Regions from separate parts of the Homo sapiens genome. Here region 2 is linked to region 1. A link means that fine-mapping ties the variant in region 1 to the expression of a gene that starts in the linked region. Tissue or cell type: adrenal gland. Region 1 holds a variant in brackets; the other region holds the start of a gene. All regions are shown on one strand. Distances are between the middles of the regions.

Evidence for each region. PIP is the estimated chance that this variant, and not a neighbour inherited with it, causes the effect.
Region 2: it holds the start of ZDHHC19, and the variant in region 1 is fine-mapped to the expression of ZDHHC19 in adrenal gland (GTEx, PIP above 0.99).

The regions. Positions count from the first base shown.
Region 1 is chr3:196,235,602-196,241,617 of GRCh38, forward strand. It overlaps PCYT1A (phosphate cytidylyltransferase 1A, choline), which reads right to left. Exons shown (of 9, transcript NM_001312673.2): 8 at 3,946-4,134; 9 at 1-3,293. The coding sequence ends at 3,087. Among named protein-coding and RNA genes, the nearest start is that of SLC51A, 22 kb to the left of the region's middle. The variant G/A (reference allele first, on the strand shown) is at 3,786.
Region 2 is chr3:196,208,679-196,214,112 of GRCh38, forward strand. ZDHHC19 (zDHHC palmitoyltransferase 19) reads right to left here and starts at 2,722. Exons shown (of 8, transcript NM_001039617.2): 1 at 2,492-2,722; 2 at 1,938-2,059; 3 at 698-837. The coding sequence starts at 2,637. It overlaps LOC124909479 (a long non-coding RNA gene), which reads left to right and starts at 2,737. Exons shown (of 4, transcript XR_007096240.1): 1 at 2,737-2,961; 2 at 3,943-4,099; 3 at 5,043-5,219. It overlaps LOC105374304 (a long non-coding RNA gene), which reads right to left. Exons shown (of 4, transcript XR_001740544.2): 4 at 5,085-5,233.

The DNA.
Region 1 (6,016 bases):
CGGAAGGCAGTGGCTGCGCCGGCACCTCCCCGGCTCTGGCCTTCTAATGTCTCACACACAGAGGCTCTGCTCTAAGGCCAACACTTCTGGCTCTCTCATCTTGGCCACATTTGGCCCACCCATGTTGACTGCTTTCTCGTGTGTGATTCAGGGAAACAGCTCCATAGCCTCAAACGTTAATATCTGAAGATTTAGATCCCAGGCATTGTGGTGGTGTGCACACCTCTAACCTCATTTAATTAGGCACAGATGACCACATTATGCAACTTCCCAACAGCTTTCTCCATCTACCCGTGCTAGTCCAGCACCTCAGACCACATTTACCCCAAAGTATCTAACAGGCCACACTATAAAAGATTTTAGCTTTCAGTCAGACAAATAGCTTTCAGTCAAAACGATTAGACTGAGGTGGTAGAAGCTCACCAAAAGGGGAAAGGGAGTTTCCCAATAACATGTACGTTTGCTGGCCCTAGCAGTCTCAGAGGCCTGTCAGCCTGCAGGTCCCGTTCCAAGCACAGGGCATGCCAAGAGCAGCCCACTGAGAGCAGAGGAAGAGGGCTCAAACATTTGGGACCCAGACAATATATTTAGGAGGTATGGCTCCAATAGGGAGGGAGGAGGAAAACCACGTTCCGGGCATCTCCCTGTCTATCCAAATACACTTGCATAATGTGCACTTGGAGGAACCAAGCAGATGGGCTTCAGCACAGACTTCACTGCCACACCACACCAGGGAGAATAAGTTAGACAGAAACAGGCAGCATTCCCAAAGAGAGAAGGCTGACGCAGAAAAGTTCAAAGATGAGACTATGTAACACTGGGTAACACAGGAAAACACTAACTTCAGCTGTTTCAAAGACAGACAGGATTCCAAGCCAAAGCTTGTATGACCAGATTTAAGAGTAAGAACTGCGCTTCAAAGAAGAGTTAGAAATGTCGTTGTCATAGGCGATCAGGATAACAAGAGGCTTCATTCTCCCTCGCCTCTGTGACGCTCTTTCTGGGTGATCCAAGTTTTGTTTTTTTTCTAGTTGATTATTTCTCTTTATTTCTGTATGTGTGTGTGGTTTTTGTTTTGTTTTGGAGACAGAGTCTCGCTCTGTCACCCAGGCTGGACTGCAGCGGCACCATCTCTGCTCACTGCAACCTCCGCCTCCTGGGTTCAAGGGATTCTCCTGCCTCAGCCTCCCAAGTAGCTGGGATTACAGGTGCCCACCACCACGCCTGGCTAATTTTTGTATTTTTAGTAGAGATGGGGTTTCACCACGTTGGTCAGGCTGGTCTCAAACTCGTGGCCTCAAGTGATCCACCAGCCTCAGTCTCCCAAAGTGCTGAGATGACAGGCGTGAGCCACCACGCCTTGCCTGGGTGATCCAAGTTTTAAGAACCAAGGTAGTCCTGCTGTGCAGGCAATGATTCTAGCCTCTGACCCTCAGGCGGAAAACTAGGTGTTACCAGAAAGTGTTTAGGGAGTGGACTATGAGATGCTCACAGTCCTAGCAGAGGCAAGGAAAGAGAAAATGTGGTTTTCTTAGCTGAAAACACTAAAATTCCACCCCCACAAGGGGTATTTATGAGTGACAGGGGTGGGGCCTGGACATAAGCAATTTTCCCCTGGATCTAGCCACAGGATTACTGATGGGTGATGATCTGCTAGGCCGCGTAGCTAAGCAGCTAAGGAGACAGGAGGCCAGGGCTTTAAAAGTTAGAGCATGCTCAACAGCAAGTGCTAAGCATTAGCATTCTTTGATTTGAAAGTCAAGTGTTGAATCCCCCCGGGCAAGCCAACAAGGCAGATGGAACCACAACCACCAGGCGTGTGTGAAAAGTGGGGAGAAAACCTACCACACTCTTGTCACGTGAGGGTATGCTCTGTGGCTTGCTGGAGGAGCAGCAGAGGGAGGTCCCTGCCAGCTGCAGCTCTCAGAGGAAAAGAAAGATGTGGAGCACTGGTTCCAGGGAAGAATGTTCTGAAGAGGGACAGAGGTCAAGGTGATAAGGCTGTTGCTTTAGAAAGGAAGGTGTTTCCTATGCTTTTGCCTTTACATTCTGTGCAAATCTCTCTAATATGGCTATGACCAAAATGGATTAACATCAAGTTCCAACAGCAGACATTTACAAAGTATCCTTTGTAAAAGGCTAGGTAATATTAATAGCATTCAAATAGGAGTAGCAGGGCCAGGCACTTACTCCCAGTAGGAAACTAATCTCAATCGACTTGGTATAGGATTGAGTATTGTCCCGCTCCTCTCCTCATCATTGTAACTCTAAAAGTGTTCCTTCCTTCGAAGGTAGATGGCACGAAAGAGACTGACAAAAGCTCCCAAAGAACTGGGTCACAGAGTTTTCTGAGAAGATGAACACAGCAGAAACACTGCAGTTGATGCCATGGGTCTGCTTCCATCCCCATCAGTGTCTTCATGGACCCCATTGGGTCCAACAAGAAACTCCTCAGGGAGTAAGAAAAGTTAGGTTCAGATCTCCTTCCCGCAGCCACAATGACACTGGTGACAGCAGTACGTTCAGGGGATTTGTGACTGTAACTCTGCTTTTCGCTTTTCCTTAAGGAAATCAAAATTAAGATATTTCTCCACAAATTACCCATCAGCGTGGCTCATTTCGTGAAGGACTTGGCAAGCCACATAGCTTCAGAACGGAAGGCAAATGCTATAGTATACCGGGAAGAAAAGGCCTCTGCGTATTACACTACCTCCTTCTTCTGCCCACTCCTCAGGGGCAAAAAATTAGTTCTACATTTGAAAGACGAATTTTTTAAAAAATTAATGAAAATGACAATTTCCCTGTTGAGATCACGTGAACATAAACAGTGAAACAAAGCCCTTGGGGGGGGGTAAATGGATGCAGAGCAGGCTTCTAAGGTGCAGTCCCCCTCCTTCGTGTGGGTGAGTGATGTCACTTGCAGGACAGGCTGTTTGGGTTCCCCCAGTCCTAGGTCTTCTTTCCCCAGTTGTCTTTCCTTTGTAGCTGTCCTTAGGTTTAGTGTTGGGGTCACAATTTGGAATTCAACAGAGAGCTTCTGAAGGTAATGGGACAGAAAGGGAGGACAGGAAAGGAGGGAGGAAACATTAGTCTTCTTCATCCTCACTGATATCATAGGCTGCAGCCTTGTGCCTGGAGAGATTTGCTGGGGAGCAAGGTGGGGAAGTCTTGCCGGAGAAGGGCCATCGGAAAGAGGGGGAGGGGGAGCGCTCGCGAGTAGGGCTGCTGCTGGGGCTCTGCTTCGGGCTGATGGCCTGCAGCATCCGGCCCTTCCCCTCTTTCAGCATATGTTTCTGCAGAAACCGAAAGGAAGAGTCAGAAAAACACCGTGGATCCTACTTAATCATCACTGAAGCATCTAGGACTGGGATAGTCTATGCTGTACTATTTATTTAAGGGTTCTCCCCTGCTGTCATCACCCGGGAAATTCCCCATTCTTCCTCAATAATCTAGTCTAGGATTATTCTAATTTATCCAAACACCTTCACAGACAGATCCTTCCTGATATCTAACCTAGGACTCACTTGCTCAATCTTTTATTTGGTTGAAAAGACTGCTACTCCTCAAAGACAGAATTCCCACCTTACCTGGGGTTCCTGCTGCAGCTACTTGTAGTGGAGGCTGCTTTCTTTTTATTGTTCTTTATTCTTTCCTTTCCTTCTATCTAAAATCATACCACAGATAAAAGCTGGGCAAGGCGACTTGCTTATCTTGTCACCAGACTTTAAGGTTGAGAGAGAGCTGGCAAAATTATCTAGGAGAATGTGTAACGTCTTTCTGTAAAG[G/A]TTTCAAAAACCTTGCTGGGGACAGTTGAAAGATAGTTCTGCCCAGATAAGGGGATAGACTAGATAACTTCTCAGTGTCGATGCCCCTTCCTGCTCAATGATTCTGTCATTCTTTCCACAACATGGAACTCCCTACATTGTCCAGTGGGAAAGAACATACCAGTGCTCCTTCCGGACCAAACATTTCCAGAAAACTTCCAATGAATTCTCGGGACTTCTCCTCCCACTTCTGAATGAGGTCAATGCTTTTTTCCTCCACCTTCTGAACAAATTCTTTTGACTTTTCCTCCACATCTTTCACTTTCTTCTTTACTTTGTCAACCCTCTCCTGCAAGTGGTATTTCTTCTCCTAGATAAAGAAATAACTCTTCTGAGAAATAATGCTCATCCTAAACTTCTCTACCATAAGAGAACGAAAAAACATGGCTCAAGCACTCAATTGACACTGTTTTCAGTCTAGAATTTTGCTTTGCTTTAATCTACCCCACTCTCAGCATAATAACAGATAAGATATGCTGTGGATGCACACACAAGAAGTGGTAATTCTAATATTGTGGGCATTTGGGAATAAACTAAAAATATAGGCTATACCCAGTAACAGGCACGTAGCCAAATAAAGTCAGAGTTTTAAAGATAAAACATAAACTTGGAACATAAACATGCGCAGCATGGCCCGAACCTCATTCCAGACGGAGATACAGAGGCAGCTAAAAGATCACTGCACAATACTGCCAAGAATAAACTAATTACAATAGATTGAAAGAGAAAATACTAGATCTTTTACTTAATTAATCTGCTTATTGTACTGGATTTTTCCCCTCTATCACTGGCTTATTCTATTATTTTAAATGAATTGTGTTTTTTGCTTTTTGTTCCTTTAGTATTTTAAGGTCCATTTACTCATTTGCAAAATGATGATACTCGTTGGTCTTACCAACTTTGCTAAAGATAAGGAAAATGGTATAAACCCTCCGGTGGAAGGGAAGGGAGTATTTAGTCAAATGAGAAGTATCCTTGGCCAGGCACAGTGGCTCATGCCTGTAATACCAGCACTTTGGGAAGCCGAAGTGGGAGGACTGCTTGAGGCCAGGAACTCGAGAGCAGCCTGGACAACATAGCAAGACCTCATCTCTACTAAAAATAAAAATATAAAAAATAAGCTGGGTATGGTGGCCTGTGCCTGTAGTCCCAGCTACTCAGGAGGCTGAGATGGGAGGAGCACTTGAGCCCGGAGGTCAAGGCTGCAGTAAGCCAAGATTGCGCCACTGTACTCTGGCCTGGATGACTGAGTGTGACTCTATCTCAAAAAAAGAAAAAGAAAAGTACTCTCAAAATTTCCAGATCATAAAGAGAAAAGGGATTATGTTTAGAATTTTTAAACACCTGATTTTTATGGGAAAAATAAAGCTATAGTAAGTAAATTAACAAGAGCTAGGGTTTATCTGCCTAGATAAATCATATTTAGATGTAATCATTTTATCCATTCTTATAGCACAATTTACAGAGATGGGAGTAGGTCAGGGAGCATGGTAAACTGGTTATGTAGAAGACATTAAAGTTAGCAGCTTTCTTCTTTTTAAATCGATTTTATTGAGGTCTAATTTACATACAAAATGTATAGTGTTGGCTGGATACGGTGGCTCATGCCTGTAATCCCAGCACTTTGCGAGGCCAAGGGGGTCCGATCGCTTGAGGCCAGGAGTTTGAGACCAGCCTGGCAAACATGGCAAAACCCCATCTCTGCTAAAAAAAAAAAAAAAAAAAAAAAAAAAAAAAATTAGCCAGGCCTGGTGGCACATGCCTGTAATCACAGCTATTCAGGAGGCTAAGGCACCAGGAGACAGAGGCTGCAGTGAGCCGAGATCACGCCACTGCACTCCAGCCTCGGTGACAGAGCGAGACCCTGTCTCAAAAAGAAAGAAACACTACATATATATATATTTGCATGAATTTTTTTAGTTTTTTTGTTTGTCTGTTTGTTTAGAGATGGGGTCTCGCTATGTTGCCCCCAGACTGGTCTCAAACTCCTGGCCTCAAGCAGTCCTCCCGCCTCAGCCTCCCAAAGTACAGGCATGAACTACCATGCCCAGAAAAATATATAGAGTTTCTAAAAGGCAATATTAAGCTAAGATAAACTTAACTTTCGTCAATCCAAATTTAAAACTCAGGTCTGTGTGGGAAGTGGTGTGTCGGGTGTCACTATCCACACGAGGAGGGCTCATAGCCTTTCG
Region 2 (5,434 bases), 27 kb before region 1:
GGCTTCCACCCCCAGGGAGAAACTGAGCCACAGAATGCCTCATGCTGGCATTTCCCTTGTTAGAGCACAGTTAGGACTCTGGTATATACGGTCACCTGTCAGAAGACCTTTAGAGAGAAGACTGGCCTGGCCTTCTGTGAGACACATCCTACTGTAACTCTGGGCAGAACGTAAACCATCTCTGGACCTCCACTTTCTCATCCATTCGATGAAGATGACAGTAACAGTAACACCCTTGCCCAGCCAGCCTCCTGCACTTGTAAACCTATGCAAGCCGTGCTCTCGAGAGAGATGGTCACTCAGAGCCAGGAGACCCTCCAACTTGGACACCCAGGCGAGGACAGGCAAGGCCTCCCAGACCAGGCGGGCAGCCAGCCTGAGGGGCTTGGGTATCTCGTGTTAGCGAGCCCAGGGGTGGGACAGAGGGCTGCCTCTCCTCCCCTGGCCTGACCCAGCCCAGGACAGATGCGGATGCCCTGTGCATGTCAGCACCTCTGCAGGCAACGGCCAGCCTCCCAGGACAGGTGCAGGTGGAGAACACATGAGTGACCAAGGGTGGCTGGGAGTTACTGCCACCCTTGGCCTTTAGCAGTCCTGAAAACAGCTTCACACCCAGCCCTGGCCCCTGTATGAGGGAGGCTCCTGGTCCCAGCCAGATGTGGGGCGATGGCTGGTGGACAGGTAGAGGGGCACTCACCTCCACACAGATGTTGCACCAGGGGCAGTGGTAAGTCCGGGGCGGGCGGTGGAAGCAGCACTTTGGACACCATTGCAGGCGGAAGGCCCCGTGGTTCACCCACACCACGTGCACCGTCAAGGGGCCCTGCTCAGCGGAGCCTGGCGTGGGAAGAGGATTGGGCACAGCAGAAGGCCCTGCGGTCACCCCGCGGCGGGGGCAGCTCCACGGCATCACAGGGCACAAGGAAGGGTGGGGACAAGGTGGGCAGGGGAACCCCTGTCCCCACTGAGCAAGCTGTCCAAGCTCAGAGAGGATGGCAGTCAAAGGGAAGACGGGTTTCCAGCCAGGAGAGTTTTGTATGAAACTCAGGCGTTTGGAACAGTGAGTGCTGCTTTGAGTGTCATTGTGTAGTGAAGGGAGGAAGTGCATACAGTGGTTTGGAAGAGCCCACTGGCTTCTGGCCCTGGCCTGCCCGGTCCTCCCATCTAAGGCAACTGGGAAACCTCAACAATTCTGTTTTTCCACACCTTGGTGGCTTAAGAAACGGGGTAGGGCCGGGCGCGGGGGCTCACGCCTGTAATCCCAGCACTTTGGGAGGCCGAGGTGGGCTGATCATGAGGTCAGGAGTTCGAGACCAGCCTGGCCAATATGGTGAAACCCCATCTCTACTAAAAATACAAAAAATTAGCTGGGCGTGGTAGCATGCTCCTGTAGCCCCAGCTACTTGGGAGGCTGAGGCAGACGAATCGCTTGAACCTGGGAGGTGGAGCTTGCAGTGAGCGGAGATTGCGCCACTGCACTCCCGCCTGGGCAGCAAAGCGAGACTCTGTCTCAACAAAAAGAAAAGGAAAGAGAGAAAGAAAGAAGAAAGGAAAGAAGGAAAGAAAGAAAGAAAAAGAAAGAAAGAAAAGAGAAAGAAAGAAAGAAAGAAGGAAGGAAGGAAAGAGAGAGGAAGAAAGGAAAGAAGGAAAGAAAGAAAGAAAGAAAAGAGAAAGAAAGAAAGAAGGAAGGAAGGAAAGAGAGAGGAAGGAAGGAAAGAAAGAGGGAGAGAGAGAGGAAGGAAGGAAAGAAAGAAAGAGAAAGAAAGAAAGAAAAGAGAAGAGAAGAAAGAGTGAGCGAGGGCCAGAGCAATGAAGACGTGGGGTGAAGGGGTCCAGAGGCTGGAGGAGGGTCAGTAGGAAGAGCACTTTAGGAATCCCCCCTGCAGGTTCCCAGCCCTTGAGTGACACCTCCTTTTCCCAGGGGGCTGATGCCTCACCTTGATGTAAGATGCCAGGGTCTGAGAAGTTGAGTGAAACAAGACTGAAGAAGGTAAGGACAAAGAGGGAGCCTGTGATAACAGGAAAGGCCCACTCCCCGTTCTGAGCCAGCCACCTGCAACTGAGACCAGAGGCAGGCTCGGTCCTGAGCAGGGGCAGCCCAAAGCCCCCGGCCCAAGGCCTGTGGCTTGCTCAGGTCAGGACCCACAGACCTTCAAGCCAGATCTAAAAATCCAGGCTCCAAATACCCAGGCAGACTCATAATGGCTCCACCAAATGTCACCAGCATGACCAGCCACCCAAAGCTCCCAAAATGCACAGGCACCCTTGACCTCTGCGCCTTTGCACGTCGGTTCCTGGAACAGAATATCCCCTTTTCCCTGCCCGCACCCTTGACCTCTGCACCTTTGCACGTCGGTTCCCTCGAACAGAATATCCCCTTTTCCCTGACCTCTCCCCCGGTCTTCTGCACTCCCCTGCCTCCATCCTATCATCTTCTGTTTCCCTGGCTGTCTCTTTGTGGGAAACCTAACGGCTTGCCTGGAAAACTCACGGGAATGCGAAGAAGAGGCCACTGAAAAAGACCAGCAGCACCACATTGAAGGCAGCAAAGAGGCTAGGGAGGAACCAGGGACGTGGGACCAGAGGCAGGGGATGGGGCTCCTTCACCAGCGGCGTGGCATCCGTTAAGAGTGTCATGGCTGGGCCTCCTTCGCCTCCAGGGGAGGTCAGAGCCACCAGGCTTCCTCCCCCAGCCCAGCTTCCAGAGCTCCATGGCCACGGCAGCCTCAGAGCCGCAGCCCAGGGTGAAAGGAAAGAAGGCCCAGTGTGACATCACAGAGGCTGGGGGACCTCAGCAGAACTGTCTGCAGCCCTGCTCTAGCTGCCTCCGGTGACAGGCACTTCCAACAGCAAACCCCACCCCCACCCCGACATGTGCTGGGGAACCGGGAGTTCCTGCCCCTGAGAGGCTGATGTTGTTGGAGAAAATATGACCTGGAGAAACACATGGGAAGAAAGTTGGTAATTTTCAGCCGGCGCTGTAATCCCTGTAATCCCAGCACTGTGGGAGACCGAGGCAGGCAGATCACTCGAGGTCAGGAGTTCGAGACCAGCCTGGCCAACATGGTGAAACCCCATCTCCACTAAACATACAAAACTAGCCAGGAGTGGTGGTGCACGCCTGTAGTCCCAGCTACTCAGAAGGCTGAGGCAGGAGAATCACTTGAACCTGGAAGGTGGACGTTGCAGCGAGCCAAGATCGCGCCATTGCACTCCAACCTGGGTGGCAGAGTAAACTCCATCTCAAAAAAAAAAAAAAAAAAAGAAAGAAAGTTGCTGGGTTTTTTTGTTGGTTTGTTTTGTTTGTTTGTTTGTTTTTGAGATAGTTTCGCTCTTGTTGCCCAGGCTGGAGTGTAATGGCGCAATCTCGGCTCACTGCAACCTCTGCCTCCTGGGTTCAAGCGGTTCTCCTGCCTCAGCCTCCCAAGTAGCTGGGATTACAGGCATGCATCACCATGCCCGGCTCATTTTGTATTTTGTAGTAGAGACGGGGTTTAGTCATGTTGGCCAGGCTGGTCTCGAACTCCTGACCACAGGTGATCCACCCACCTCAGCCTCCTAAAGTGCTGGGATTACAAGCATGAGCCATATTAAACTTCCTTTATAAAAGGCCTCAAAAAGAAGAAACTGAGGCAGAAATTTAAAAATAAATATGCATTCATTCACTCCAAGACAAGTAACAAGCAAGGCAAAAGTTAAAAAGAAAAGAACAAGTTTTCCTCTGCCCAGCAAGCTCACTTCAAGGACAGTTATAAGATAACGCTGTTTAAGAGGCCAAGGCCAAAAGAATAAGCTCCAGACACCCCTCGCCTCCAGAGCAAAGTTGAAGAAAAAAAAGAAAGACAAATTCTTTGACTGTTACTCCTTTCCCAGGTTTCTTAAGCATGATTATGTTTTACAAATGTCTGTATTTAGCCAGTTCTTGTTTTTCTTTCAATGCAGCTACAAAGTCACCAGCTATGCAAGGCCACAAGTTATGCTATAGATGATGTGACCTGTCATATGATTAACTACTTTTATTTATTGGAAGTCTGCTTATAAAAACCCCGCTCTGTCTTTGTTCGATGCTCAGCTTTTTAGATGACAGTCCACTAAGCCAGTGCGTACCTGAAATAAACAGTCCTCTCGTTCTCTGTCTCAGTCTTGCCAGTCCTCAGTTTCCTGCAACATCTCTACTAAAAATACAAAAATTAGCCAGGTGTGGTGGTGCGCACCTGTAATCCCAGCTACTCGGGAGCCTGAGGCACGAGAATCGCTTGAACCTGGGAGGCGGAGGTTGCAGTGAGCCGAGATCTCACCATTGCACTCCAGCCTGGGAAACAAGAGTGAAACTATGTCTCAAAAACACAGAATAAAAGAAAAGAAAAGATTATGCAAAATGGAAGAAACTAGGCACAAAAAGCCACATATTGTATGGTTCCACTTACATGAAATATCCAGAGTAGCCAAATCCATAGAGATCAAAAGCAGATTCACAGTTGCCAGGGTGTGGGAGGAGGGGGACTGGAAGAGATGAGGTTTGTTGTTGTTGTTTTGAGACTGAGTCTCACTCTGTCGCCCGGGCTGGAGTGCAATGGCACCATCTCAGCTCACTGCAATCTCTGCCTCCCGGGTTCAAGCAATTCTCTTGCCTCAGCCTCCCAAGTAGCTAGGATTATAGGCACCTGCCACCATGCCCAGCTAATTTTTTTTTTGTAGTTTTAGTAGAGACGGAGTTTCACCATGTTGGCCAGCCTGGTCTCGAACTCCTGACCTCAGGTGATCCACCCACCTCAGCCTCCCAAAGTACGGGCATTACAGGAGTGAGCCACTGCACTCGGCCTAATTTTTGTATTTTTAAGAGATGGGGTTTCACCATGTTGGTCAGGCTGGTCTCGAATTCCTGACCTCAAGTGAGCCACCTGCCTCGGCCTCACAAAGTGCTGGGATTACAGGTGTGAGCCACGGCGCCCAGCCTCTTTTTTGATTTTTCAAAACTGACTCTCATATTAAGGAAGCCAAAACTTAAGTGATAACTGAAATGATCGTGTTACTGACCACAGGTTCTTTAGGCTCCGATAAAAATTGACACGAGGCCAAGCAAATTTCCCAGACAAGGCTTTATTAGGGGCTTCCGTTCCACCACGGGGGAGACAGCACCGCAGGGAGAGGTCTCCGGCTGGCTCCCCAGGGGACTGCGTTGTGGCGTCTCGAGGAGGGCGACACGCGTAATTCATGAGGTAGGTGAGCGTCCCTGCAGGAGTGACAGAACGCACAGGGATAGTTAGGAATCGCGGTAACACATACATCGCAGGATCAGAACACGACGAGAAAGCCTCTCCCTGGCAGAGGCTTTTGTTTTGTTTCTGTCTGTCACCCAGTCTGGAGTGCAGTGACAAGATCTCGGCTCCCTGCAACCTCCGCCTCCCAGGTTCAAGCGATTCTCGTGCCTCAG